Linked DNA regions of Homo sapiens. The protein of the gene in region 1 purifies or fractionates together with the protein of each later gene. This does not show direct contact. Each region holds a gene or a part of one and is shown in the gene's direction. Other genes may lie near its edges.

Region 1 (4,317 bases):
CATGGGAGGCTGAGGCAGGAGGATGCCTTGAGCCCAGGAGCTGAAGGTTGCAGTGAGCTATGATTATGCCACTGCACTGCACCCTGGGTGACAGAGCAAGACTGTCAAAAAATAAATAAATAAAACCTGAAAAGCAATCTTAATGATAGTAAGGAATTAATGGGCTTTTTTGTTTATGTTGGTTTATTAGTGTTTTGTTACTTTTTTTAAAACAAATCCTTCTTCTACAGATGCATTCTGAAAATTTTTATGATTAAAAAAAAGAAACATATTAGTTGAGTTTTTGTGGCGTAAGGGCAGTGTTAGTTTTTCTGTTTTTGTTTTTTGTTTTTTTGAGACAAGGTCTCACTCTGTTGCCCAGGCTGGTCTTGAACTCCTGGTCTCAAGCCATCCTCCTGCCTCATCCTCCCAAAGTGCTGGGATTACAGGTGTGAGCCACTGCACCCAGCTGAGACTTTCTGAGCTAAAAAAAAACTGTATGAATCCCTACCCATAAGAAAACTCTTATTTCTATTATTTTATGTTTTAAAAACTGTTTCTATGAAATTATGCATTTTTAAATATACTATAAATACTTGCAGTCTTGTGTTCTAGCTTAAGCTGATTCAGTTAAACTTACCAGTTGTTCAAGAAGCGGAAAGGATTTGATGAGTCTAAAGTCTACAGCCCAAGTTATTTACGTTTTGTAGATTATCTGAAAATAGTCTAGTGGGATTTGGGTAGAGAAGTATATATTTAATCACATTGCATTATATAATTCTTTAGATTGTAGTAATGGGTCTAAATGATTGCTGAATATTTTTCCTTCTGAATTTGTGTCTTCAAAAAGTCAATTATTTGGCTGATCTTGAATAGTGAACTTAAAATACTTTGATGGAAAAAGGAATTATTTCATTCATGATACTGGATTATTCTGTTTCATAACTTTCCTTGATCTAGGTGATCTTGCTGTAAGAAACTCTGTATTTAGGCTGGACGTGGTGGCTCACACCTATAATCCTAGCATTTTGGGAGGCTGAGGCGGGAGGATCACTTGAGCTCAGGAGTTCAAGACCAGCCTAGACAACATAGTGAGACCTCATCTCTATGATAAAACAGATTTTTTTAAAGTAAAAAAAAAACCTCTCTATTTGAAAATTTGATCATAAAACACATTAAGCAGTGTTTATAATGTGAAATAATTTACTTGATTTACTATAAATATACTGTATGTGTAACTGGCAAGTTTGGTATACAGAGTTGGCTTTATACATAAATATACTGTATGTGCAACTAGCAAGTTTGGTATACAGAATTGGTATACACATATACTGTATGTGTAACTGGCAAGTTTTGTATACAGAGTGTGTGTACGTATATACGCACATATACATACATATTTAAATTTGGAATCAGCAAAATTTTTTCTTTTCTAGGAACTAAGCGTCTTGTAGAAGGAACTATTAATCCAGGAGAAACCTGTTTAATCATTGAAGATGTTGTCACCAGTGGATCTAGTGTTTTGGAAACTGTTGAGGTTCTTCAGAAGGAGGGCTTGAAGGTCACTGATGCCATAGTGCTGTTGGACAGAGAGCAGGGAGGCAAGGACAAGTTGCAGGCGCACGGGATCCGCCTCCACTCAGTGTGTACATTGTCCAAAATGCTGGAGATTCTCGAGCAGCAGAAAAAAGTTGATGCTGAGACAGTTGGGAGAGTGAAGAGGTTTATTCAGGAGAATGTCTTTGTGGCAGCGAATCATAATGGTTCTCCCCTTTCTATAAAGGAAGCACCCAAAGAACTCAGCTTCGGTGCACGTGCAGAGCTGCCCAGGATCCACCCAGTTGCATCGAAGCTTCTCAGGCTTATGCAAAAGAAGGAGACCAATCTGTGTCTATCTGCTGATGTTTCACTGGCCAGAGAGCTGTTGCAGCTAGCAGATGCTTTAGGACCTAGTATCTGCATGCTGAAGACTCATGTAGATATTTTGAATGATTTTACTCTGGATGTGATGAAGGAGTTGATAACTCTGGCAAAATGCCATGAGTTCTTGATATTTGAAGACCGGAAGTTTGCAGATATAGGAAACACAGTGAAAAAGCAGTATGAAGGTAAGTGTATTATTCAGGAATCTGCAAGAATCAGAAATCCAGCTTAAACTGAAGAAGAAAAAGGAAATGCTCATGTCATTGAAAGTCCATTCATAGAGCAGGCTGTCAAGCGTGGTTGGATCCAGGAGCTCAAGTGATATCTTCATGACTTGCTTTCTCTCCATCTCTCAGCTCTGCTTTCTTCTCTGTTGACTTCTTTCTCAGGTAGGCATACTCTGCATGCTCACCCCAAACCAATCACTCTAGCTTGGGATGTAGAATACCTTCATTAACTAGCCTGGGCAATTTGCTCTGCAACTGTGAGGTTGTTAACTCTGTATGACCTTCTTGAAATAAGAACCAGTCAGGGATAATTTCCTTAAAGAAAATGGATGTGCTAGTACCAGAAGAAGGGTATGTGCCTGGGCAAGCAAATTTGACAGATGTCCTTGGCAGAATATGATGTTTTGAATGAAAATTCCACATAAAGGAAACAATGAAAAAGAAATATAAAATGGTAAGATTTATTTGTAGCAGAAAAAGTTCTATTGATAAACATTATTTAAAGATTTTTCTTTTATCAAATAGGGACTCAAAGTAGTGCATGTGTTGGTTGAGAAAAATGCTTAGTTCTACTGCCTATTCTATGCAAATTTCTGTCTATGTTTTTACAACTGTGTGATCAGACTATATTTAATGCATTTTTCACTTAACCTGGTAACAGATATTTGGTTGTGTCATATAACATTTTTTGTAGGCATCTTTGAGGTAACTTTTCTTTAATGTATGCATGTTCATAAGCTATTTCTTTAAAATAGATTTGTCTTTAAGTGACTTCTTCATGTGCTTAAGATGTCCTGCCCTCATCACATTGCCTAGCTTACTTTAGCTGATTGACTGACATAAGAGTTTTATACAAACTTTCTTCAGCTCTGCATAGAGTTTTTTCGAAAATCAGGCTTGTTACTGTCCGCTTTTAAAAGGAATATAGTTGCCTATTGAAATTAGATAGCTAAGGAGATCTAAGGAACACGTAGAAATATTGAGCGATAGTAAAGCTGCTGAGAGACCCCTGCAGAGTGAAAACTTGTCATCTTCAAGAAGAATTTTATTTTTATTATTATTTTTTTTGAGATGGGGTCTTGCTCTGTCGCCCAGGCTGGAGTGCAGTGGTGCAATCTTGACTCACTGCAACCTCCACCTCCTGGGCTCAAGTGATCCTCCCACCTCAGCCTCCCAAGTAGCTGGGACCACAGGCATGCGCCACCACACCTAGCTAATTTTTTTGTATTTTTGGTAGAGATGGAGTTTTGCCATGTTGCCCAGGCTGGTCTCGAACTCCTAAACTCAAGCAATCTGCCCACCTCAGCCTCCCAAAGTACTGGGATTACAAGCATGAGCCACCATGCCCAGCTTCAAGAGGAATTTTTAAATGTTATCCTTGACATCAATAAATGTTTATCTTCACTGGAGTCCCTTTCTAATAGCATGAGCTTTATTTGTGGTCATGAGCTTCAGCCTTCAAGGAAAAAGAGTCCTGTTAGTGTTCCAGATAAGCCAAGTGCAGACCTTGAAAGTTTTTTCTCATTGTGATCTCTCACCCAGCTACTTACCTGAATAACAGATACAGTTTTCACAGATGGAACCATGGGTCTGCTGATAATCACTAAAGTTCCTGAAGAGTTTTGATTCTCTCATTAACATGTTACTGGGAGATTATTTCATATTGTAGTTGGTTGGTTGGACAAGACGTTAGAGGTTTTGTTTGAAAATCAGCAAATATCTTTTTTCCCCCTTCTTCTTAGGAGGTATCTTTAAAATAGCTTCCTGGGCAGATCTAGTAAATGCTCACGTGGTGCCAGGCTCAGGAGTTGTGAAAGGCCTGCAAGAAGTGGGCCTGCCTTTGCATCGGGGGTGCCTCCTTATTGCGGAAATGAGCTCCACCGGCTCCCTGGCCACTGGGGACTACACTAGAGCAGCGGTAAGTGGTGGGGGGACTGGGTGAGAGGGGGCAGGGGCTGCTATGCTGCATGCTGCAAGAAGATATCTCCTAATCTGGCGTTTCTGGAACCTCTGCCAAAAAAAAAATCCAGCTCTTGTTAGTGTGACAGTATATTAATACTAGTTGGATAGAATTCCTTGATAGTTAATAGCATTTTATATCATGTAGTGGACACTTCAGGAATTTGAATTATACTCCAAGAGAAACTTTGAGACCCAGATAGTTAGTCAAACAAACACTTACTAAATC
Region 2 (4,317 bases), on another chromosome or scaffold:
GTCCTTATGTAGAGATAACGTATACAGTTGACACATGAACAACACAAGTTTGAACTGCATGGGTCTACTCATGTGAATTTTTTTCAGTAGTTGGCCCTCTGTCCCCATAGATTCTGCATCCACAATCAAACGTGTATCAAGATTCAGTATTTGCAGGATATGAAACCTGAGGATGTGGAGGGCTGACTTCATATATGCAGGTTCCATAGGGCCGCATGCGCAGATTTTGGTATCTGAGGAGGGTCCTGGAACCAGTCCCCAGTGGATACCAACGGGCGACTCTTTGTTCTGCATCTAAATACATCTCTTTTTAGCCCATTTATGTAAGTAAAAATGAGGAGCAAGCATTATTAAAATATTTAAGTTGCTTATATATTGCCTTAGAAATTTGTTAGTGGTGGCTTTAAGGACCACTAACATTTGTGGTGAAGTTGAATGTACCCAGGCAATTTAATACATACTAAATACAGGTTCTCTTAACTGCTGTATATTTGTCATCATCACTAACATTTAATGAACACTTAACCACGTGTCATGGCATTTTACATAGTGCTTTAGACATATTCTGTGATTTAATTCTCTCAACTACCCTATGATGCATATACTGCTATTTTTAAAGAAAATAAGTAACAGGCTAAGAAGAAAGCTATTAATAAAAGAACCCACATCTTCCTAATTTCATAGTAAAACTATCTAATCTCCATACTGCCTGCACCATATGTGGTTTGAATATGTGGCTCTCTCAGTCTGTAAGGCTTGTATTAATTTTATCTCTCACTCCCATTTCTGCATAGAGAACTCCTATTTACTTGTTAGATTTCACCTTAACCTTACTTTAGGGAAGCTTTGTGAGCCTTCAATCTAAGCTAGGTTCTTTTGTTGTAGGTTCTCATAAAATATATTTTCCTTATTCCAGTAATGTATCTCAGTTGATTATTCATCAGGATGATTGATTATCTTTTCCTGATACTTAAAAGCTGTGTGAGAGCAAGAACCATGTTAGCCACATCAGAGTTTGATCACTATCACATCTCTTAGTACCTTGCCTAGCATGTAATAGTAAAATATTTGTCAAATGAATGAATAAACACTGTGCTGTTAGAGTATAGGCTTCAGTGTGGTTGTGAATCTCTTCTCCCTTTTGCTTTTATTGTCCTTACCTTGCATTTTCCTACTAGCTACTCTTTCTCTTACCTGCTAATAAACCTTTCCAGTACAACTCTATTCTCAGGTTTGTTCAGAACAAGGCCCTACTAGTGATTTTGGAAACCTTATAACAGATTGTTGATCTGATTCCCTGGATAAGATTCCAGGAATTTTGTTTACCTCCTGAAACTGTATGCTACATTTTGTATGATATGCACATGTGCATTTTTCTTGGGAAAGGATCTGGTATTCAACAGGGACATAGGTGGCTTACTCTAAAAAAATTGCTGCTATAGAGGATTCTTAGCATGGGAATTAGCCCATATATTCTTGTAGCTTTCTGCTGTCATTACAGGAACTTTTTCTAAAATCAGAAATGGAAAGGCCATTGTTTTTTAGAATGCAGTCAGCACAACTACCTGGTAATAATTGGCCCAGTGGGTTGGTATCTGCTTGGAAATGATACTTCTGAGAAACAGATTTTGTTACCAGTTAACTTGATGGGCAGTGTTGGCTATGGTCAATGCTAGATAAACAAGTAATTAATAACTGAAGCTTTTAATAAATGATGGTGTTCTCACTCATAGATGGGAATTGAACAATGAGAACACATGGACACAGGAAGGGGAACATCACACTCTGGGGACTGTTGTGGGTGGGGGAAGGGGGGAGGGATAGCATTAGGAGATACACCTAATGCTAAATGATGAGTTAATGGGTGCAGCACACCAGCATGGCACATGTATACATATGTAACTAACCTGCACATTGTGCACATGTACCCTAGAACTTAAAGTATAATAATAATAATAATAAAAAAGAAAAATAAATGATGGAAAGACAATTGAGCAAAAATTTAAGATTTAGTTTTCCTGTTAATTGTGTTATTAGACCTCCCCCCACCAGTTTTTTTTAGTTGATCTTACTTGACTAATCACAATGTCTAGGCCTTTTCCTTTTCTTTATTTTGTTGTGAAAAAGCTGTTGCTATGTCCAGTAACACAGAAAGGAAGAGAGATTTTCCAATTGTCACTAGTGTTGTTACCATGCTACTGATTCCTGAAGCATCAATGGACACAGCATGATTTCTTAATGAAGATGGGAAGTAGACACTGATTTGCTTCATTGGAGATTCTTTGAATTGCTCTACTTATTGTAGTAAGTGAGGAGATTGAGCAAGGGATTTTTCCTAAGAGTCTTGCTAAATGATGCTAGGCAAAACTTAGGAGAGCAGCAAGGAAAGTACTCTGTTTTGTACTAGGCATTGTTACTAGATTGCCAACTCTAAAGACAGAGTTGGCTTTTGGGGGTTATCATTAGTGCATTGAAAGAGTCAATTCCATTACTCTGTCTTGTCCTATAGGTAAGAATCCACTAGGAACTCAGAGAGTCTTTTTCTTTCATGGTGCATTAACCATTTCTGCTGAGTGCAGCTCATTTCCCTCCCTCTACCTGTTCTCCCAACTGTTGCTGTGGACGTGCAGGAGAGAACATACCTAGTATATAGCCTACCATATGCCAGGACGGTACATTCTTACTCTTAGGAAGAATGGTGTTTTCCTGGTCTTCATCTTAATTTATTACCCTCTTTTGGAAAATTTTGGTTGGTTTTCCCTTTGTTTTCTAATTTTTTCTACCATTAAAAGTGTTTGAAGTGATAAGCATAAAGGGTAACTTTTGAATTGTTTAGTTTTGTGACCATATTTACAAAGTAAGGCAAAATAAAATAGACAAAATACATAAAAATTATGATTGAAATTTGGGAAAGGACCAGAATTTTCCCCCTATGGTTTTACATGTTCGTCTTTACATTTTTAAAATAAACTTTGCTGGACTTTTTTTTTTAAATGCACTTGGGATTTAAAACCTGTAAGTAGTTTTAGAAACTCACACATCACTTTGTACTCTGAATTCCTTACTGGAAAACCAAGTCTCCACCCTCAAGGAGTTTTCCTCCTTCCCAGTTACAGGTCGGTCTTTTTCCTTTGTCAGTAGGATTTGATTGTGTAACTAGTATTTATTGAGCAATTCCTACAAGTGTGTGACACTATATTAGATGCCTAATAGGTATTATTTCATCTTTGTAAGACTAGTGCGTAAGTACTACTGTTATTTTATATAAAAGGTTAAGACATTTGTCCAAGTTGACTTAGCTAAAAAGTAAAACTTCATATATTTAACCACTGCTCTCTACAGTATATGGCCTCTCAGTATGAGATTTTATTGATTCCTATTAAAAGAATTTGCAGATACCAAAATATGAAAAATTCTGTGAAACTGGGTTACATACATTTAAAGTTGTTATGGAAGAACTAATGACTAGGAATATGAAAAATATAGTAAGGGTCTTGCCTTACCAGTTTCAAAAACTTGTGTTAGTCATTGTAAACTAAAAAGAGTATGGTACTAGCGAAAGAATAGACAACTGGAAGAGTTAATCTTAGAGCCCAGGATATATACATATTTCAATTCAGTGGATAAAAGATTATTTATTAAATGGTGCTGGTAGAATTGGTTAGTCATGTGGATGTAACACATACTATATACACCAATTTGGAGGAATTAGAAATTTAAAAATAAAAAAGTTTAAAATTTTAGGACAAAATATAGTTGACTATGATGTCGAGTTGCAGTAAATCTTTTTATGAATTCTTTTCAAACGAGACAGAGTTCAGAATTTATCAAAGAATGGATATTTAAATTTAAAAAAATTATATTCCAAAAATATAACCAAATACAAAAGATAAATAATAGAATAAGGAAAATTCTTATAACAAATTTGGTAAGGTGTCAATATCCATAATATATAAAGAGCTTCTATGAAGTGATTAGAAAATATTAATAGGCACGTTACAGAAGAACAAATTCAAGCAGTCAGTAAGCTATTACCTTAATGATTAGAGTAATGCAAATTAAAGTAACAGTGAGGTGCCCATCAGATTTGCAGAAAATTGGAAAAAAAACACTTAGAGCTTGTGAAAATGTCGGAAAAGAACAATCATATAGATGGAAACACTAGAAATTGCTACAGGCTTTTTGGAAAATAATGTTAAAATTGAAAATACACATAGTCTTTGATTTAGCGATCTTGTTTATAGTACTCTATCCAAAATATTTATGAATAACAACAAAACCTGAATGCTGCTAATAGAAATTGGTTAAATAAATTAA
Region 3 (4,317 bases), on another chromosome or scaffold:
ATTAACGCAAACTTCCTAAAGCTAGACCAAAAGGAAAAAACCCATCTCCCCATGCCCAAGTAGCAAAGGACCAAAGGCTACTCTCCCTACGATCGACTGCCTTCCACCACCTCTCAGATGGAAGGGGAAAGTGCCTTGGATTGTCCGTGGACTAAGCATGGGCCATCCCTTCATCTGCATAGGGAGCCAATTCACCTCAGCCTTTAATTAGCCACGGACCAAATCCTTCATGCAGATAAGGGGTAACCGATAAGGGACCTCAAAAGGAGTATTAAAACCCAGAAAACTTTGTAACCGGACCCTTGAGCCGCTTGCTTGGGCCCACTCCCACCCCATGGGGTGCTTTCTTGCTTCAGTATCCCTGCTTTCGCTGCTTCATTCCTGTGTTTCGTTCCTTTTGTGCAGTTCTTTGTTCAAAATGCCAAGGAACTGGACACCTCACACTCATGACCTTCCTTCCAATAACAACAGTAGCAAAGATAAGAAATCAACCTGAGTGTCCATCAGTGAATGATTGGATAAAGAAAATGTGGTATATATATACACCGCGAAATTCAGCCATTGAAAATGAAATCATGTCCTTTGCAGTAACTGGAGGCCATCATCTTAAGTGAAACAACTCCCAAATAGAAAGAAAAATACCACATGTTCTCACTTACAAGTGGGAGTTAAATAATGTGTACACGTGGTGATGGAAAGTAGACTGATATTAGAGGCTTAGAAGGGTTGGGGAGTAGGAGTGGGTAGATGATGAGAAATTGCTAGGATCATTGTACATTATTCAGGTGATAGATACACCAAAACCCCAGACCTAGTCACTAAATAATATATCCATGTAACAAAATTGCATTTGTACCCCTTAAATTTATACCATTTTTTTAAAAAAAAGGAAAACAATATGTCTTACAGATAACAGAAGCTGTGAGTTACTGTAAGAATGCTGATTTCCACATCTTTCATGGTATAAGTCAACCTACATTGTGTAAAATGGAATTATGTAGCTTTTAAGTGACTCCGATCTCTTAATATACGTATAATAATTTTTCTTAATTTTAGAATAATTTTTGAGGAACTAAAATTGCTTTTTGTCAAGAAATTTCTCCTCCAGAGATGAGCAGTTTATTTAGTTCACTTTGTTTTCTTTTTCTTCTGTTGAATTCTCTTATTAAAAATAACATGTCTAGTGTGATCCTATTGTTATAATTTGAATTCTGACCTTGTTGCTTACTACCTGTGTGACCTTAGTCAAATTATGTGAGTCCATTTCCTCATCTATAACTGGGCATTTTATTTACTTCACAAGATGGTTGTAAGGATTAAAATATGTACACTTGTCCCTAGTATCTGTTGGGGATTGATTCTAGGATCCCCCTTCAGATACCAAAATCCACAGATGCTTAAGTCCCTCATATTGTATGACATAGTACTTGCATATCACCTGCACCCATACTCCCATATACTTTATCTCTAGATTACTTATAATACCTAATACAATGTAAATACTGTGTAAATAGTTGTTATACTGTATTGTTTAGGGAATAATGACAAAAAAAAGTCTGTACCTGTTTAATACAGATGCAAACATCTTTTTCCCCTAAATATTTTCAGTTCTTGGTTGGCTGAATCCTCGAATATGGAATCCACAGAAGGCTAACTATACTTAAATGACCTAGCCCACTGCCTTAAACTCAGTGTCTGCTCAAAAGAGAACAGCTATTACTATTTTTTAAATTCAGATTGTATATGTGCATGTCCTTCTTCAGTAATGTACTTTTAAAAATCATCAGTATATTCTGTTTCAGTGCTCTATTTATTATTTACATCTTTTAAAAAGTTACTGAATTTAAATTATCTGTTTATTATGTAAAGTGTTCTACAATGGACTTTTCTCAGGTTTGAACTTGTTCTGGAAGCTGTGCGTCACCGTAATGAGGCTTGTAATTCTTGATAACTATGACTTGGCTAGTGAATGGGCAGCCAAATACATCTGTAATCGCATCATTCAGTTCAAACCTGGACAGGACAGATATTTTACACTGGGTTTACCAACAGGTAATTAACTACTTTTTCCATTTTATATTCTGATATTATCTAAATTTAATTCTGATGGAATTGAAGGGTTTCTTTTAAGATACTTTCCCCATTCATTTATTGGCATGTCACTAATTGAACATCATAGTATAAAAGGCCAGAAAAATGCATATATATAAAATCTACTATCTACAATGTGTTACTAGTTCTTGTGCCAAAATTTAGTCTCACCTGTCACTCCAAAATGCAATAGGAAATATTGTAACTTAAGTGTTGTTCATATTTTTTGTACATTTTTCTAGTAGTCCTTTGTTTTGGGGAACATTGCTTTTACCATTCATACCAGTTTTTAGTTGATTGGCTTTCTTATTAATCATTAAGAGGTACCTAAGGTATGTACTGTTGCCTCTTAATTTAACTTCACCTGCCTTATAAATCCTTATTAATATAGAAGTTATAAATTATATATTATATAATGTTTATTAGCCTTTTACTATTTGCTTCTTCTATTATAGATGTATTACAAGTGAAAAATATATCTTCATCACAGTAATTACATATTTTATTGAATTCAGTTTTCCATTAAGCATTCTCTTAAAAAACGACTAGGTGGTGTCATTTGATCTTATGGCACTTTATTTGACCCATGATTTTCACAGAGTGTTAGACCTGGAACTAAAGTTGCTCCTTATTGACTACAAGGCATTTGTTCTATACCCCTGAGCCTTGGTTTCCTTACCTATAAGAAAGATAAGGATAATAACTTAAGATGCTGTTTTGAGATTCAGCTAAGATAGTGTATGTGTAAGTCCCTTGTATACTGTAGTCTATAAATTTATAGTTCCCGTGTGTTTTATTTAAACAGACTGTTTTCTCCAGCTCCTCCCCTCATACATGGTAATTACATAAAAACTACAATTGTAATTTTTTCCCACTTGAGTAATTTCCGTGAATGGTACTCTTCAAGTTGATTGTTTTGTTTTGCTTTTTCTCTTTTGGTCCAGGGCAGTAGATCTTGGTGAGAATGGCAAAAGGGTTTTTTTTTTTTCACTGGACACACCAGTACTACACCCCCAGCACCCTCAGTTCTGATATGTGACCCCTTGGGGTTGAACGTGGTTTCTGTATAGTTTCTATACTGTTACCCTTCATTACACTCAGCCTACCTCTGTTAATAACATTGTGTTAATTATGATGCAGAAAAAAACAGTAATTTGAGTGGGGACAGAAAGACTTAGTCTTAAATGTCAGCAGTGCTAAACATCTTTTTGTGTATTTAGATCTACAACGTTTGCTTTATTTTGGGTAGTATAACTGCTAGTAATATACCTGCCAAGTGAGGATCTCTGGAAAACCTTGTTGAAATTTTCCATTACTCTCCTTCATTGACCATCGACAAGTTAATTATGTCCTCTTCCCCCACTGCTTCTGAGACTTGAACATACATGTCGGTAATTGCTTGTACCAGGCTGCATTGTAATTATCTCCCTATCAAGCGCAATTTCTGGGCAATATCTGTTCAATTTTATATTTACTCACGTGACCTTAATGAGCTTGACATTTAAAGGCCTGCATGCTGTGAACCTGATCTGCTTCCCAAAACTTATTCCCACCATCTCCTTACACAGAACTGGGCTAGGCATATTTGACTGCTTGCAGTTCAAGAATAGGCTTGAAGTTGCTGGCTGCTTTGCTTTGCTTTGCTTTCACTCATATTCCTAGCATGTTATTTAATGGAATCTATATGAACTCTGGCACCAGACCTATCTAGATTGGAATCCCTGGTTTCACAGCCATATGACATTTGGCAAATTCCTTAATCTTTTTGACCCAGTTATTTTGTCTTCAAAATGGGAAAGATAATGCCAGTTTCTCAAGATTGTGAGCTTTATGTGAGGTAATATATAAAAACATTAGCGCAGCATCTAGCCACATGGTAGACAGATGTCATCGTTGAACCTCCCGCTCCATCTTTTCTCTGCTCTGAGTTAGTTTCCTCTTTGTTGAAAGTGTATCCCTTAATCAAGACTGAATTGAAATGCCATTTTCTTTTATTGTTCTTCCAACTCGCAAGATTGTAGTCTTTTTTATTTGATGTTCTGCAATACTCAGACTTCTTTTAGATTATTTATAATGTTTTTCCTGTGTTATGGTTATTTTGTACTTGCTTATCCCTATATTGTGAGTTCTTAAAGAAAATGTCTTAATCTTTGTTTTATATAAATCATAGTAGGTACTTGCTAAATTGTGTTAGTAATGACTATTACAAAGCAAATATAAAAATTA
Region 4 (4,317 bases), on another chromosome or scaffold:
GTCGTTTTGTGGTCTTTTATCTCCCATTCACAAGTAGATAATAATTTACCTGGATAAAATTTTAGGTTCAACCCTTTGGAGATATTACTCCTTTATCCACTTTTTTTTTCTTTTTTTTGTTTTTTGTTTTGATATGGAGTCTAACTCCGTCATCCAGGCTGGAGTGCAGTGGTATGATCTCGGCTCACTGCAACCTCCACCTCCTGGGTTCAAGCGATTCTCTTGCCTCAGCCTCCCGAGTAGCTGGGACTACAGGCATGTGCCACCACACCTGGCTAATTTTTATACTTTTAATAGAGACAGGGTTTCACCATGTTGGCCAGGCTGGCCTCAAACTCCTTACCTCAAGTGATCCAACAGCCTCAGCCTCCCAAAGTGCTGGGATTACAGGTGTGAGTCACCACGCCCGGCCTCTTTATCTACTTTTATCCAGGGTTATTGCCAAGAAATCTGATTCTTGCTTCTTTGAAAGAAATCTATTTTTTCTCTTTGGAAACATTTAGAATTTCTCTTGATCTTTGATGTTCTTAAATTTTACTATCTGGTATGGCACACAGTGAGGTTTTTCAGTTGAGGTCCTAATATCTTTAATACGGTTTTTTTGTTTTGGTTTGGGTTTTTTTTTTTTTTTTTTTTTGATGGAGTCTCGCTCTGTCACCCAAGCTGGAGTGCAGTGTTGCGATCTCAGCTCAGTTTAACCTCTGCCTCTTGGGTTCAAGCGATTCTCCTGACTCAGCCTCCTGAGTAGCTGGGATTACAGGCGCCCGCCACCAGGCCCTGCTAATTTTTGTAGTTTTAGTAGAGACAGGGTTTCGCCATGTTGGCCAGGATGGTCTCGAACTCCTGACCTCAAGTGATCCACCCGCCTCAGCATCCCAAAGGGCTGGGATTACAGGCGTGAGCCACCATGCCCAGCTCATTAATATCTAACAGGTTTGTTTAGTCCTGGAAAATTTTTTGTCATTATTTTTCCAGATATTCTTCTTCCTTTCATTTATGCTTTTCTAGCCTTCCAAGTAGTCTATTATTGTGATACTTCTACTTCTGTGCCCTAGTTCTCTTGTCTCTTCATTCCATCTCTTCATTCCTGATTCATTCCTGATGCCTTCTGCGAGTCCCTCCCCTCATCTGCCAGCATATTAATGCATTCTTCAGATATACTCATTCTGGCTTCCATCCCACCCACCAAGATCTTTATCTCAACAATTGTTTTTCCCATCCCTGATATCTCCAGTGGGTTCTTCCCCATAACTGATTCTTCCTGCTTCATTATTCTCCCCTACTTTGCTGTGGCTATTTTTCCTTTTTAAAAAAAACATTTTTATTCTCTTCCACCATTTCTGTCTCCCGTGGTATAGGTTGTGCTGCTTTATCTTTCTTAGTCTCAGAGCTCCTCAGACATCTTGTAATTTTCCCTGTGAGCTCATCTTTAACCCCTTGCACCGTCGGCAGCCTTGGCTTGTAATATCTCCCATGGGTTGTGGTAAAAAGCTTAGGCCTTGGTTTGTGCTCCTCATACATTTGGAGGGCAAAGGGTTGAGCCTCACTGAGGATGGCTCTAGTGTTAAAATCCAGTCTCAGTGCCACTCCTCCACCCCAAGTATCCTTTCCGCTGGGGTATTTTGCAGTTCCCTCTATTGGAATAGGTTGGGGAGAAGAGGCTGCTGGTGTTGCCATTGCCTACACTTGTTTCCCATGGCTGGTGTACCTGCTGGGCACGAGCACTGGCTCACTGCCCCAAGCCAGCCCTGCTGCTTTTCTACCTGTAGCAATGTCGCATTGATCCAGGGACCCAGGTTTGTAGGCAGGATCACCTGGAACTCACAGGCGTGGTAGGAGACGTGCAGCCCTGCCCTTGCCCTGCCCACTCCTGCATGGGTGGTCTCGAGCTCGCTCTCACGTGAGGCCATCATTCTCCCCCAGGATCCAACCAATTTATTGGCCTCCAGAAATGTCTTGCATTTTTGGTGCTAGTTTCCGATTGAGGTTTTGTTGCTGTTGTTGTTGGTTTTGACTATGATTCTCTTTCTCTGTCCTCTGGCATGTCCAGCATTGGGTTCACAGAGACAGCTGGCAGCTGGTGCTATCTGTACCGTCTTATCCAGGACCAGAAATCTTTCTTATTATGTACTTCACTGGCCTTGTTACATCTTGCTTATGAAGTTTATTTTTATTCCACTGTTGGGGAAATGGACCCTTGAAGAACTTTCATCTTCTTTGTTTTAATAAAAACTTTTTACATAAAATGTGAACTGGACATTTTCACAGGAAACCAACGGAAGGCATTGGTTGAGAATGCAGGCTTTGCAGTTGACTATGATGTAGCTCTAGACTTTGCTACTTCATAACTGTGTACCCTTGGACAAATTGACTTTTCGGAGCTGGCTCTACCCAGTCCCCCTTTGCAAGCCCTGCAGAGAGACAGCTGGTTCCAACTGCTGGTAGATCTCTGAATTTAGAAATTGGGGTGCTTAGAACTTTTTGCCCCAGTTACAATTCTGGAACAACAGAAAAATATCACTGACATCTTATTCCTGAAATAAAATTTTAAAGCTAGAAGAGATGGCCTGGGCTTTGGTGCATTCCTTCATTTCAGAGAGGAGGAGACTCCAAGCATCGTGCCATTGTTAAGCAGTGGTGGAGGACACATTAGAACCTGGCCCCAACCCCTTCTGAACGTTTTCTTTCTGCTACATCAGGCTTGCTTCTAAAGTAGTTGTTATGATTGTTATATATTCCCAGTGGGTACCAAGAATAGTAATCCTTTTTTTTTAAAGGGATTTTGTTTGATATTCTGGATATGCCACAGTTCCCTACATGTTGGTCTGCTTTTTTCTTGTTCTCTTAGGAGAGATGAAGCCAGTATTGATTTGAGCATGCTAGCCTTAATCGCTGAGTTATATCGGGGAATGGTGCTGCTTTCTTCTGCAATCTGCTCTTGGATCTCTTTGCAAAACTCTGATTTACTCCTTGTGATTATTTGGGAAACAAATCAGAAGAAAACAAAACTGGTTTCCTTTCCTCTCCCCCTTACATTTTTTATGACCTATCTTAACTTTGGCAGGTTCGATACAGAGGAGGAGGCTATAGCAATCGCTAACGCAGCTGATGTTGGGTTAGCAGGTAGGTGTTTGTCCTTGTTCAATACCAGTCATAATCATTTTTCTCCAGCTCATGCCAGATTTACCCTTTTAAACATCACCCTGGGTTTTGAGACAGAAACTTCAATGAGGTATGTGTTTTGTTGCTTTCCAAGTGGTGGAATGGATTTGGATTTGTGCAAGTATGTGTACTTTTCCCTTGTCCCCATGATACACATTTGGGAGCTCTCTAATTACAGCTGTGGGAAGAAGAGAAGGTGCACATTATTCTACTTTTCTAGGTGGAGAACTGCACACATCTCAAAGTCCCACATTCTCAGAGGCTTAATCCCCAGAAATTCCAAATGCTTTTTCTTCCCTTTTGCGTGGCTCCTGTAAGCCTGAACAGAAGAGGAAGGGCATCAGCAAGGAGTGTCAGGGACAATGAAAGGAGTGAAGATGGTGTGTGCAGAGGTGCCTCTCTGATGGCTGACATTCCTTTAGTTTGGAGATGGGCCAGGTGGTCACTGCATGTACTCTATAACCCTGAGAAAATTATGTAATAGCATCCACAGCAAATGAAGTACTGCAGAAGATACAAAGACATACAAGATGCCACTATAGCTCTATAGAAGCTTCCCCTCTAGCTGTAAGAGAACTATTTATACCAAGAGGAATGATAAGCATGCTATGAGGTCCCTTAGAGTTATCGTAAAGCTGGAGTAAGATGTGTGCACAAGGACGTTTATAACACTGAGTTCAGCATTTGTCTCTTCCTTCTCGATGGGGTGATGGTGGAGGAAGACGTACCCTGAACTAGGTCATAAATGATGGGCAGAATTCTGGTTGTGCAGAAGCTGGAGGAGAGAGATTCTGGGCAGAGGGCACCAAGGGAGTTGAGAAGCAAAGTAAGAAAGGGTGAGGAGAATTTGGCTGACAGGTTTGGAGAGGATGGTTGGTGATTGGAGTAATGGAAGATGAAGCCAGAAATGTTGATTGAAACTACTTGTGGGGGAGAGGGTGTTGAATACCCACTAATGAATTTAACCTTATTTTATAATCAGGAGTCATCGAAAGGCTTGGGCAAAAATGTCGTGTGGAAATCTAACAGGTGTGCAGGTGGATTGAATAGTAGAAAACAGGAAGAGGGTCTCGATAGGAGATAGTGAGAGTAGAATTGAAGCAAGAGGTGACTTTCAAAGGTTTTGAGATGAAAAAGTGGACAAGACCAACCTGG
Region 5 (3,902 bases), on another chromosome or scaffold:
CCCAGGTTGGAGTGCAGTGGCGCAATCTAGGCTCACTGCAACTTCTGCCTCCTGAGTTCAAGCAATCTTCCTGCCTCAGCCTCCTAAGTAGTTGGGATTACAGGTGCCACCACACCTGGCTAATTTTTGTATTTTTAGTAGAGACTGGGTTTCACCATGTTAGTCAGGCTGGTCTCAAACTCCTGACCTCAGGTGATCCACCAGCCTCGGCCTCCCAAAGGGCTGGGATTACAGGCTTGAGCCCCGCACCCGGTCAGTACTTCCATTTTTATATGCTACTATATTGTCTTGACTTTTACAATGAATATGTAGTACATTTCATAAAACTAAATTTAAAAATAGTATGTGCTAAGTGCTCCAATAAGTGAAGTTGGGAATTTTCTGGAAACTTCTAGTTGGAACATCTAAACACAGAAGTCTGGGGTGTCAGGGAAGGTTTCTCAGAGGTCTTGTAACCTTGGCAAGTTATTTAGCCTCCCTATGTCATTTTCCTTATCTGTAAAGTGGGGATAATAATACTACCTTCCTCACAGGGTTGTTGTGAAGATGAAATGAGCTGACATATGGAAAGTACTTTTAGAGCAGTGTCTGGCATGTAGTAAGTATGATGTAACTGTTAGCTGTTAACATTAAGCTGAGAGCTGGAAGATGACTGAAAGTCAGCCAGCTAGAGAGGGAAAGACAGACTCAGGCAGAGGGAACCGCACGAGGCCCCAGATTGCCCGACACTGTGGTCCTTAGCAACTCTCCACAGCGGGGAAACCTCAACACCCGGCTTCGGAAGCTGGACGAGCAGCAGGAGTTCAGTGCCATCATCCTGGCAACAGCTGGCCTGCAGCGCATGGGCTGGCACAACCGGGTGGGGCAGGTAGGGCCTGCCCCTATCCTCTCCCCAGCTCATCTGCATCTCCTTTCTGCCTTACAGTCATCCCCAATTTAGGATTTTTAGACTTTATGATTGTGTGAAAGCGATATACGTTCAGTAGAAACTGTACTTAGTACCCATACAGCCATTCTGTTTTTTACTTTCAGTACAGTATTCATTACATGAGATATTCACTTTATTGTAAAACAGGCTTGGTGTCAGATGATTTTGTCCAACTATAATAGGCTAATCTTAAGTGTTCTGAGCACATGTAAGGTAGGCTAGGTGTATTAAATGCATTTTCAGCTTGTTTTCAACTTAACAATGGGTTTATCAGGATGTAACCCTATTGTAAGTCAAGGACCATCTGTCTTCACTTCTTGACCACCCCACCTCTAACACCGTAGGCTGGGAAGATTGTGAATCAGAGGCCAGACTCTAGGCTTTCATGGAGAAAATTTACAAAAAAAAAAAAAAAGAGGCCAGACTCACACTTAGGCCTACCCAGGCTTTCTAGATGATAGGGAACTCCCATCTCACTGCCAGGTGCTTTTAGACACCCCCGTGTCCACCCTTTTGACTCCCTGTTCCGCCTCCACAGATCCTGCACCCTGAGGAATGCATGTATGCTGTGGGCCAGGTACACTTGACCAGGGAAGCCACATGGTGACATATGCCTTCCCTTTGTTCTCAACCAAGAAGCTTGTCTCACAACCTTCTGCATCTGCTTCCCCAGAATAGCATTCTCAGGGAGGGGCAGACCTTGGGATGCTACCGGTCCAAAAGGCGCTGGGGAGCAAGTAGATAGAGGTGGTCCCATGCTTTGCGCCATTGGTTGGGGAAAGATCAGGCCTGATGTCCTAGGATGTTTTTCCATCAGGGGGCCTTGGGCGTGGAAGTGCGAGCCAAGGACCAGGACATCTTGGATCTGGTGGGTGTGCTGCACGATCCCGAGACTCTGCTTCGCTGCATCGCTGAAAGGGCCTTCCTGAGGCACCTGGTAGGGCCTGTGCTCCACCTGTGGAGGGCTGGGGACTTGGAGAGCTGGGAAAGGTGGCAGGGAAGATTTCTTACATGAATGCTCTGTATACAGTGCTAACTCATTCTTGTTGAATGTTGTGTATGGATAGGACCAGGTCTGGGCCCACAGTTGCCTTTTCAGTGATGTCCTCAGGTCTGTGGTCACAGGGTGGTGTTAAGAGCCCTTGCAGCTCACAAGAACTTCTTGTTACAGGAAGGAGGCTGCAGTGTGCCAGTAGCCGTGCATACAGCTATGAAGGATGGGCAAGTAAGTGGGGGGAAATGGGCGGGAAGCCAGGGAAAGGAGGACTGTGGCATTTCTTCCTGTGCATCCCAGGTTTCTAGGTAGTCCCCTCTCAGACTGTGCTGAGGCAACTGTTTTCTTCCCCAGCTGTACCTGACTGGAGGAGTCTGGAGTCTAGACGGCTCAGATAGCATACAAGAGACCATGCAGGCTACCATCCATGTCCCTGCCCAGGTACCAAAGCTGGAGGGCGAGGGGGTAATAAACAAGAGTGCATATAATCTCTTGTTCTCACCAAATCCCACCTCCTTCCCTCATACAGCATGAAGATGGCCCTGAGGATGACCCACAGTTGGTAGGCATCACTGCTCGTAACATTCCACGAGGGCCCCAGTTGGCTGCCCAGAACTTGGGCATCAGCCTGGCCAACTTGTTGCTGAGCAAAGGAGCCAAAAACATCCTGGATGTTGCACGGCAGCTTAACGATGCCCATTAACTGGTTTGTGGGGCACAGATGCCTGGGTTGCTGCTGTCCAGTGCCTACATCCCGGGCCTCAGTGCCCCATTCTCACTGCTATCTGGGGAGTGATTACCCCGGGAGACTGAACTGCAGGGTTCAAGCCTTCCAGGGATTTGCCTCACCTTGGGGCCTTGATGACTGCCTTGCCTCCTCAGTATGTGGGGGCTTCATCTCTTTAGAGAAGTCCAAGCAACAGCCTTTGAATGTAACCAATCCTACTAATAAACCAGTTCTGAAGGTGTTGTGTGTGCGCGTGTGGAGTTGGCGGGAAGATAGGAACAAACACAAAGCCCTTTCATCCTTACCTCAGAGGCTGGGACTTTTGCCCAGAGTTCTCCTGGTACGTCCTTTCTGCTTCTGCCTCAATAGTTTTCATTTCACACAGAATAAATTGTCTCCCAGGAACACCAAGAAACAGAGCCACAATCTTAAATTCCTATGGTTTGCCCCTTCAGTTAACAGTAGAGCCTGTTTATATTGCATGGCCCCTCCCACCCCTATTATCAGGAAAGTATAGAAAGTCACTAATTCTACAACTCTCTTGCAAAATGAAAACAAACGCTCCATTTAAAAAAAAAACAATCCTTTAATAAAATTAGTCCATCTAAAACTCCCCAATGCCTAAGGTTCTAGTCGTGGAAGGGTTAGCTGCAGAATTCCAGTTCAGAAGCCAACGGAGGCTCAGTCCAGACAGGGATTAACCGACTTGTGCTGGTATCTAGGTGCTTGGATTGCCGAGTTGAGTTTGCTGGAAGGGAAATGGGGCGGCGTCGGGGGGCCCGACAGGCCTGGCTGCCAGTCGGCTTCCGCGAAAACGACTCTTGCTGTCCACATAGCCAGCCGTGAAGCCAAACTGCAGGCCTCTGCCCTCCCCTAAATGTCCTCCTAGGAGGCAGTCACTCGGGAGGAAGATGTGCCTGTTACCAAGTGCTTCGTCCCGGCCCCAGCGCAGACCTATGAATGAAGATGGAGGGAGAGCTGATGTGAAAGGCCTGGGTCCCGGCCGCAGAAGGGGCGCCAGACCGAAATCGGCGATCGCGTCTCTCCCACCAAAGCCTCCCGGCCAGCGGCCGCGTCTGAAAGTCCTGGGCTAAGCACCACGCCGGGGGGGTACCAGACACCCCGGCTGCAGCTGCCGAGGGCCTCACTCACCTTCAGGGCCGCCGGCCTCTCGGCCTGGACTGCCCACCTCGGCCCTGCGTCAGAGCGGAAGGCCAAGTCTTCCAGAAGGTGCTGCGGCCTCCCCGCAGCCC
Region 6 (4,317 bases), on another chromosome or scaffold:
GAATCCCCACTTCTGTTGTTGGCTGCAGTGACCTTGCCAGGGCACTTGGGCTCAGTTTGTAGAAGGAGCATAAAGATATCTCAGAGAGCTGCTATGAGGATAAAATGACATGTATTATGTTCTCTAAACTATGAAGAGTGATACAATTCAAGGTTGTATTTCAGCTGTGGGGATCAGGGCACACATCAAAAAGATGGTGGTGATGGGCCTATGCCTTGATAGATTGGGTAGGATTCCAGCAGAGTACATGGGAAGGCATTCTGATGAAGGAAACATCTTAGCAAAAATGTGTTTTGATACGGGGGGAACCCACCCCAATATTTCAACGTAGGTTCTTTCTATTTTCCATAAGTATTGGCCAGCTGAGAAATAAAGAGTACAAAGAGAGGAATTTTACAGCTGGGCTGCCGGGGGGTGACATCACATATCAGTAGGACTGTGATGCCCACCTGAGTCTTAGACCAGCAAGTTTTTATTAAGGGTTTCAAAAGGGGAGGGGGTGTAAGAACAGGGAGTAGGTACAAAGATCACATGCTTCAAAGGGCAAAAAGCAGAACTACTAATAAGGGTCTAACAAAGATCACAAGGCAAAGGGCAAAAGCAGAACTACTGATAAGGGTCCAACAAAGATCACAAGGCAAAGGGCAAAAGCAGAACTACTGATAAGGGTCTATGTTCAGCAGTGCACGTATTGTCTTGATAAACATCTTAAACAACAGAAAACAGGGTTCGAGAGCAGAGAAGCGGTCTGACCACAAATTTACTAGGGTGAAGTTTTTTCCCCACCCTAGTAAGCCTGAGGGTACTGCAGGAGACGAGGGCGTATCTCAGTCCTTATCTCAACCTCATAAGACAGACATTCCCAGAGCGGGCGTTTATAGACCTCCCCCCAGGAATGCGTTCCTTTCCCAGGGTATTAATATTAATATTCCTTGCTAGGAAAATAATTTAGCAATATCTCTCCTACTTGCACGTCCGTTTATAGGCTCTCTGCAAGAAGAAAAATATGGCTCTTTTTGTCCGACCCCTCAGGCAGTCAGACCTTATGGTTGTCTTCCCTTGTTCCCTAAAATCGCTGTTTTTCTGTTGTTTTTCAAGGTGCGCCGATTTCATATTGTTCAAACACAGTTTTACAATCAATTTGTACAGTTAACACAATTATCTCAGTGGTCCTGAGGTGATGTACATCCTCAGCTTACGAAGATAACAGGATTAAGAGATTAAAGACAGGCATAAGAAATTATAAAAGTATTATTTGGGAACTGATAAATGTCCATATTAAAATGAAATCTTCACAATTTATGTTCCTCTGCCACAGCTCCAGCTGGTCCCTCCATTCGGGGTCCCTGACTTCCCACAACAGTTTTAGGATGGTAGAATTGCAATGCAGGGCAGGTACTGGAGAGTTAGTTAAATGTTATTGGTTGCAGTTCAGGTTATCTAAGCAGTGGTGGAAGAGGCTAACATGGTAGGTTGGGGCCAGATTGTGGAGACAGCTTTGAGTGTCACATCTAAGGAAGTTAGATTTTATATACATAGTGGGGAATGAGTCAGGGTTTTGAAGTATTCTATAAAGTAGATTGGAGGGATCCAAGTCTGGAGGTGATTAGGCCACTTAAAAAGCTCTTCCAGAAGGTGAGATAAGTGATATGAGGGTCTCGTTTGTAAAGAAGACAGCAGCAATGGCACAAAGTCGACTTGTTTTTTGATCATTTGCATCTTCATTATAAAGGAAGTCCAGAGAATGTATGGCTATGTCACATTTTGGGCAATCTCTCTGGGCTAACTTTCTTTAAAAGGTCAGATTCTCCTGGCAACAGAGAGAGACTCCGTCTCAAAAAAAAAAAAAAAAAAAAGGTCAGGTTCTCCTTCCAAGTAGTGATCTGGAGATCTTTTCTTTTTTACTATCTGTATCTGTCTCCACTAATACAGTAGACAATGTCCTCAGTGTTGCCATTATTTCTACCACCACTGCCAATGTCCATTTTCACATCGTTCCATATATAAATATATGAATATATAAAAATATAAAAAATTAATATATATTAATATATAAATATATCTATAAATATATGAATATATATATATATGATGGGGTCCCTCTCCAATCAGGTAGATTGGTGGAATTGAATGCAGTAGAAAGGAGAATAGGGAATGGAAAGGAGGAAGGAAGAAGGACAATGGCCAGATAAATGGCTGACTATTCAAGGCATAGAGAATCATAATATATATAAAGGCATAATGACATCAGAGAACTGAGGCAGGGACCTACGGGTAACACAGTGAATGAAGTTATAAGCAGTGGGACTTGAGGGAAGGGTGACCAAAACAATCATTAGGGTACTCAAAGAAAAGATGAGAATTCCCATTATATTCATTTGTTTTTCTCACCCTGTAATGGTTGCTATTTAAGTGATAAGGGTATGAAATAGAAAATGTTTGAGATGACCGGTTTAGGGGAGTGGTGATAACCGTTGGTGTTAGAGAAGTATGCAGCTACATATGTGGTTGCTTTTGGGACTGTCTCTCAAATGTGTTGAGGAACCACTGAAGTATTGATTTTTAAGCCAAAAATGACATGACAGGGTTTTCTTTATGGAAAGATCACTCCAAATTGCATGTAGATAAGCCTATGAAAAGCAAAGAGATAATTGTCTAGGCAGGAAGTAGTGAGGACTTCTTGCTTTCCTCAAGATACACTGAAGGCAGTTGAAAAGCTCATTTTTAAAAGTCTGGTGAAAACCACTTTGTTCACTTTTGTTTTGTGGGAGATGTGACACCTAGTAATAAAGAGTTAACAAACCCTTTCCCCTTTTATGAAAATTTGACTTTTCGTTAACTCCCTAGTTTCCCAGAAAACAATGAAAAATTGTGTTTGTTGCTTATGGTAAAAATAACCCAATTGGTAAATTGCATCTGGAGAGGGAGAATTGTAAATACTTGAAAGGAAGCCATAGCTTTGGACTTCCCTGATTGTAGTGACTCTTATAACTGTCCCTTGTGGAAATTCTAGAAGTTCTGCCTATGGAGTTGCTACTAGAGATACTGGCTCCTGTGGTACATGGGGCCTTCTGCCCTAGGGTGATTCTCATTCATATCCAGTGTGAATCTTCTCCCTGTACCTGATCTGTGTCGACTCCTGTAAGGACTCCCACTGAAGAGGAACACCTGATACTTCTTTGTTGGCAATCTGTGTTTTCCTAACAGATACCGTTTTGAGTAAACTGGCACCATGTATGGCCTATGGCTATGGTTGTCTTATAAGTCTGGATGTTTAGTTGAGCCTTAAGAAGACTTTCTGGGCCAGGCCCGGTGGCTCACGTCTGTAATCCCAGCACTTTGGGAGACCAAGGTGGGTGGATCATGAGGTCAGGAGTTCGAGACCAGCCTAACCAACATGGTGAAACCCTGTGTCTACTAAAAATACAAAAAAATTAGCCAGACATGGTGGCGCGTGCCTGTAATCCCAGCTACTCAGGGGGCTGAGGCAGGAGAATAGCCTGGGAGGCAGAGGTTGCAGTGAGCCGAGATCGTGCCATTGCACTCCAGCCTGGGCAACAGAGTGAGACTCCATCTCAAAAAAAAAAAAAAAAGAAGAAGGCTTTCTGTTGGGGGCAATATAACACTTTTGAAAGTTATTTGAGAGACAAAGTAGATAGTCTCTAAAGGGAATTGGTCTCAGTCTTATTAAGGTCGAAAGACAACATTTTTTAAACCAGAGAAATTTTTTAATTTCTGAAAATATGGCTAATGCAAGTGTGGAACTTCTCCTTTCTGCAGACTGAGGGTAATAAAGGTGCTATGGTCTGAATGTTTGTGTCCCCTCAAAATTCATGTGTTGAAATCCTAATCCCTGAGGCAGGTATTAGGAGGTGGGGCCTTTCAGAAAGTGATTAGGTAGGTCATGAGGACAAAGTCTTCATGATTAGGATTAGCATCCTATAAAAGAGACTGTAAAGAATGATCAAGCCCTTCTGCCATGTGAGGTCACAGTGCAAAGGTACCATCTATGAGGACAGACACTAAATCTCCAAGTGCCTTGATCTTGGACTTCCTAGCCTCCAAACCTGTGAGAAATAAATGTCTGTTGTTTATAAGCCACCCAGTTTATGGAATTTTTGTTACAGCAGCCTAAATGGACTAAGATAAGAGGCAATGGAGATTTTAACTTTAAGATGTAACCTCTTACAAAGCTCTCTAGTAATACTTCTAGAGAAATAAGTATCTTCATCACTAGAAGCAAATTTGAGATTTTGTAGGGAGAAAACACAAAGTCAAACAACGTTTTTATCATTGTTGTAGCTTTTTGACCAGTTT
Region 7 (4,317 bases), on another chromosome or scaffold:
TTTAAAAAAAAAAACACACACACACATTGTATAAAGTGATTATTTCAGACATAAAGTCTGACTCTTCAAACAGTTATGAGTTAAACTTATACCTACTTGGGCTTTATAATAAATGAATGTGCTATCTTTTTATTATTTACTGAGGAGAACAGATTAGAGGCGGACTAGAAAATTAGGGAGAATGACCAATTGCTTGGCATAATTAAATGGTAATTTTCAAAATTAAGTTGTTTGAGATCTTTTAAAATTATTTACATTATATATTAACAAATATTTACACAGGTTGAGCATCCCAAATCCAAAATGCTCCAAAATCTGAAACTTTTTGCTCAAAGGAAATGCTCATTGGAGCATTTCAGATTTCAGAACTGGATTTCAGATTTCAGAACTGGGGATGCTTAACTGATAAGTATAATGCACATATTCCAAAATCTGAAAAAATTTGAAATTCAGAATACTTCTGGTCCCAAGCATTTCAAATAAGCGATACCCAATCTATAATTACATATTGAATACAAATCTATCCCGTAAGAACTGATATTAAGGACATTGCAAAAATCACTATAACCATTCTTATCCAATAGAAACTCTCATACTTTATTTTCCATCTTAATTATGTTTTGCTTAAACTAAGTATTTGAATTCTTATTCCCTGGGCATATATTAATTCGTAGTAGATAATCTGCAAACAAAATACATGACTTCCTATTACTAGCCACTTGAAAATATAACAGGTAGTTGACTATATGTATGTATGGTATAGTATAAATAATTGCCTCTAAGTATAAGATTTTGAAAGGTAAAAAAACAAAATGTATGTCTGTACTATTATTGGTATATAGTTTCAAAAATTCACAGAAGGGAGCCAGGTGCTCTCATTGCCTAACAAAATAATGGAAATATGTATTCATTCTAACATCTTGACATACAGTATAAAGGGCACTCAGCAAGTGCTTTTTAGTTAGACTGATTTTAAATGAGTAGATTCAGGAATACCAGAAAACACACACACACACAGATAATTGGTTGAAAATACGAGGTTAGAAACTTAACCATTGAAGAGGAGTAAGGCTACTTAAAGCGTTAAAAACTAATTGGGTAAGGTATGGTTGACCCAGCTACTTCATTTGCCTTACGATGTATATTCATTAAACTAAGTCACTCACCTTCTCTGTGATGTTGATGGTTTGGTATAGTAAACATGAGATATGATTAAAGGTGATTCAGGGATAGATCAAGTGTCTGCCTAAGTAAATCTGTGTTTTCATTTTTTTTTCTAGTACCATAACAGCTTGGGGGAAAGACCATGAAAAAGATGCTTTTGAACATATTGTAACACAGTTTTCATCAGTGCCTGTATCTGTGGTCAGCGATAGCTATGACATTTATAATGCGTGTGAGAAAATATGGGGTGAAGATCTAAGACATTTAATAGTATCAAGAAGTACACAGGCACCACTAATAATCAGACCTGATTCTGGAAACCCTCTTGACACTGTGTTAAAGGTAAATTTTCATATGTAACTTTATTATTAGAATCCCTCTGTAGGCCAGCTGCATCAATACTACTTTTCATTTATATACACACAATTTCAGAGCTGTGTGGACCAGTCCCCTTTATTTTAGAGTTGCAGCCCAGAGAGAGTAATAGATTTGCCTGAGGTCACACAGTAATAGCACAGAAGGATACCAAGACTTATGGATTGTTTTACTGTCAATTAGACATTTGAATAGATATTTTGTTTTCTGCTTACCTGCAAAATTAATTAACAGCATTGCCATTTTAATTAATCCTATGATTTGGGCACCAAACTTATTTGCAGTTTGTTTCTTTTTCAGCATAAGTCACTGCTAGACCTTTGAAGTTGTTAGCACAGAAGAAATAGGAACAGGGTGATGTGGAATAAAAATAATTCAAAAATACTCTTCAAGTGGAGGTTCTTTAGAAATACTGTTGATTCATAATGTAGCAGTGTTACTTTTTGTTGTTAATGTTCAAGGACTTGGTTTATCTTCTTCAAAAAGTAGTAATAGCAGGCTTATTTGATGCCTACTACTAGAAAAATATTTTAGGTGATTTACATAAGATACGCCATTTAATCTCTACAAAAAAAAACAGTGATAAATATTACTGTCTCTGTTATAGAAGAAAAAAACAGAGGCTTAAAAAGGTTAAAGTAACTTGCTCAAGGTCACACAACATGAAAGATAAGGAGTCAGATATCCAGTGTAGGTCTTTTGGCTGCAGCCTTGCTACTTGACCACACCATTTGTCAGTTAATGAGCAGATGATACTTACCCCTTAAGAAAGGGAAACAGAATTAAGGAGGTCTTTTCTTATTCTATTAAATGATAGGCCAATCTGAAAGTCTTGTCTTAGCCTGCAATATTTGGTTTTAGCAAACTTGATAGGTTTCATGTTTTTACTGTTACGTAATAAAAAATGTACACAGCTAGTTATGAGAAACTGATTTCATCAATGGGGAATTTTCTCTTTGTTAGAATCTTTAATCAGTTTATTTAGGAAAAAGAAATGATTGTTGTGGGAAGAGAATGTATTTCTTTTGTTTATATGACCAAGCTTTCTGAGAAATTTTAATTTGGTGTACAAAACTTTTAGTAGTTAGTGAATGAGTAAGATGATTTGTGTATTGTGCAGTTTGGCTTTAAGAGCAAAGGAGAACTTAGAGACTATGGGTTCTAGATGCTGTGTCTGCCTTTCACAGTTTCTCTGAACTTTGTGATTGAACTGGATTCATATTGGAGTTATATATCAGACAAAAACCAAAGTCATTGGGCACAAGCAGAATAAGTCCAAATTAAAAGTATAATCATGAGTTTGTTAAATAATGCTTTATATACTTCTTTAAAATATACTTATTTAATATTAAGGATTTTTTTTTCCTTGAATCCATATAATTTGAAAGGTCTAAGGGGAAAAACTTGTTTTGAGCCACTTTATGATGTGAATTCACTTCATAGGAAATAACATGCTTGTTTTTAATGTACTTTAACCCTTTAAAGTACACTGGACCAAATTTTAGAGAGCATATACATAGTGTTATAAAATTTTTAAAGTAGTTAATTTTTATATTCTCGATTATCAAAGCAAAATCATTTAACTTTGAAAAGCTCTTATACTTGTTTTCAGCTTTAGTTATTTGTGTTGCATGTGTATTTTTCCATATAGGTTTTGGAGATTTTAGGTAAGAAGTTTCCTGTTACTGAGAACTCAAAGGGTTACAAGTTGCTGCCACCTTATCTTAGAGTTATTCAAGGGGATGGAGTAGATATTAATACCTTACAAGAGGTATGTGTTTTATATTAAAAGTTTCAATAAGGCATTTCTTATAATTAAGTTTGTTTATGTTTGATAAAGAACACAATATAAATACAATTTTAAGTCTTTGTAAGTGTTTATGTTGGTATAAATCTCTGTGCATTGCTTAAAGTTTAGAAATAATAGTAGTTTAAAATACAGAGGTGCCAGCCAAGCCATACTTACTCTTCCAGTTGTCATTGGCCACCCTGAATGATGAATCTAAAGAAGTATCATTGTGAAACAAGGAAATGTCAGTCAAGAAATATTCCTTGGAATATAAAACAAAGCCTTGACTCTGCTGGCATAGGTCTGAGTTTTCATAGACTGGAGCTTCACAAATCTGTAAAACTCATAATATTAATGGGTGCTTTTTCAGAAATTATAGAATAGCTGCCACCTCTTCTAAATTAAGCATTGACTGTCATCAGTATTAGATTTAGCCAGATAGTATAAGTGTTATGCAGGCGTACCTCATTTTATTGTGCTTTGCAAACATTGCATTTTTTTACAAATTGAAGGTTGTGGCCACCCTGTGTTGAGCAAGTCTGTTGGTGCTATTTTTCCAACATGTATTCACTTCATGTCTGTGTGACACATACTGGTAAATTCTCACAATATTTCAGACTTTGTCATTATATCTGTTATGGTGATCTGTGATTAGTGATCTTCGATGTTACTACTGTGATTGTTTTAGGGCACCACAGGGCACACCCAGATAAGGCAGTGAACTTAATTGATAAATACTGTGTGTGTTGTGACTCCTTCACCAGTTACCCATTCCCTTTCTCTGCTCACTTCAAGTTTCCCTATGCCCTGAGACACAACAGTATTTAAATTAGGTCAATTAATAACCCCACAGTGGCCTCTGAGTATTCAAGTGAATGGAAAAGTCACATCCCTCTCATTTTAAATCAAAACCTAGACATGATTAAGTTTAGTGAGGAAGGCATGCTGAAAGCTAAAATAGGCCTCTTAAGGCAAACAGTAGGCCAAGT

Evidence for each region.
Region 2: the proteins of UMPS (region 1) and AASDHPPT fractionate together in Homo sapiens (co-fractionation; one large-scale study listed by BioGRID). This does not show direct contact.
Region 3: the proteins of UMPS (region 1) and GNPDA2 fractionate together in Homo sapiens (co-fractionation; one large-scale study listed by BioGRID). This does not show direct contact.
Region 4: the proteins of UMPS (region 1) and ALDH5A1 fractionate together in Homo sapiens (co-fractionation; one large-scale study listed by BioGRID). This does not show direct contact.
Region 5: the proteins of UMPS (region 1) and HMBS fractionate together in Homo sapiens (co-fractionation; one large-scale study listed by BioGRID). This does not show direct contact.
Region 6: the proteins of UMPS (region 1) and GLO1 fractionate together in Homo sapiens (co-fractionation; one large-scale study listed by BioGRID). This does not show direct contact.
Region 7: the proteins of UMPS (region 1) and NAMPT fractionate together in Homo sapiens (co-fractionation; one large-scale study listed by BioGRID). This does not show direct contact.

What each region holds. Positions count from the first base shown.
Region 1 is NC_000003.12:124,736,153-124,740,469, forward strand, and holds part of UMPS (uridine 5'-monophosphate synthase), read left to right. Parts: intron 1-1,415; coding exon 1,416-2,087; exon of another isoform or gene 2,088-2,291; intron 2,292-3,871; coding exon 3,872-4,047; intron 4,048-4,317. UniProt on the Homo sapiens protein: Bifunctional enzyme catalyzing the last two steps of de novo pyrimidine biosynthesis, orotate phosphoribosyltransferase (OPRT), which converts orotate to orotidine-5'-monophosphate (OMP), and orotidine-5'-monophosphate decarboxylase (ODC), the terminal enzymatic reaction that decarboxylates OMP to uridine monophosphate (UMP).
Region 2 is NC_000011.10:106,080,060-106,084,376, forward strand, and holds part of AASDHPPT (L-aminoadipate-semialdehyde dehydrogenase-phosphopantetheinyl transferase), read left to right. Parts: intron 1-4,317. UniProt on the Homo sapiens protein: Catalyzes the post-translational modification of target proteins by phosphopantetheine.
Region 3 is NC_000004.12:44,719,819-44,724,135, reverse strand, and holds part of GNPDA2 (glucosamine-6-phosphate deaminase 2), read left to right. Parts: intron 1-1,893; 5' UTR 1,894-1,928; coding exon 1,929-2,052; intron 2,053-4,317. UniProt on the Homo sapiens protein: Catalyzes the reversible conversion of alpha-D-glucosamine 6-phosphate (GlcN-6P) into beta-D-fructose 6-phosphate (Fru-6P) and ammonium ion, a regulatory reaction step in de novo uridine diphosphate-N-acetyl-alpha-D-glucosamine (UDP-GlcNAc) biosynthesis via hexosamine pathway.
Region 4 is NC_000006.12:24,529,055-24,533,371, forward strand, and holds part of ALDH5A1 (succinate-semialdehyde dehydrogenase, mitochondrial isoform 2 precursor), read left to right. Parts: intron 1-3,064; coding exon 3,065-3,123; intron 3,124-4,317. UniProt on the Homo sapiens protein: Catalyzes one step in the degradation of the inhibitory neurotransmitter gamma-aminobutyric acid (GABA).
Region 5 is NC_000011.10:119,090,659-119,094,560, forward strand, and holds the end of HMBS (porphobilinogen deaminase), read left to right. Parts: intron 1-754; coding exon 755-868; intron 869-1,466; coding exon 1,467-1,505; intron 1,506-1,745; coding exon 1,746-1,865; intron 1,866-2,099; coding exon 2,100-2,153; intron 2,154-2,276; coding exon 2,277-2,363; intron 2,364-2,451; coding exon 2,452-2,625; 3' UTR 2,626-2,891; downstream 2,892-3,902.
Region 6 is NC_000006.12:38,696,197-38,700,513, reverse strand, and holds part of GLO1 (lactoylglutathione lyase), read left to right. Parts: intron 1-4,317. UniProt on the Homo sapiens protein: Catalyzes the conversion of hemimercaptal, formed from methylglyoxal and glutathione, to S-lactoylglutathione. Involved in the regulation of TNF-induced transcriptional activity of NF-kappa-B. Required for normal osteoclastogenesis.
Region 7 is NC_000007.14:106,260,581-106,264,897, reverse strand, and holds part of NAMPT (nicotinamide phosphoribosyltransferase precursor), read left to right. Parts: exon of another isoform or gene 1-1,232; intron 1,233-1,280; coding exon 1,281-1,506; intron 1,507-3,190; coding exon 3,191-3,310; intron 3,311-4,317.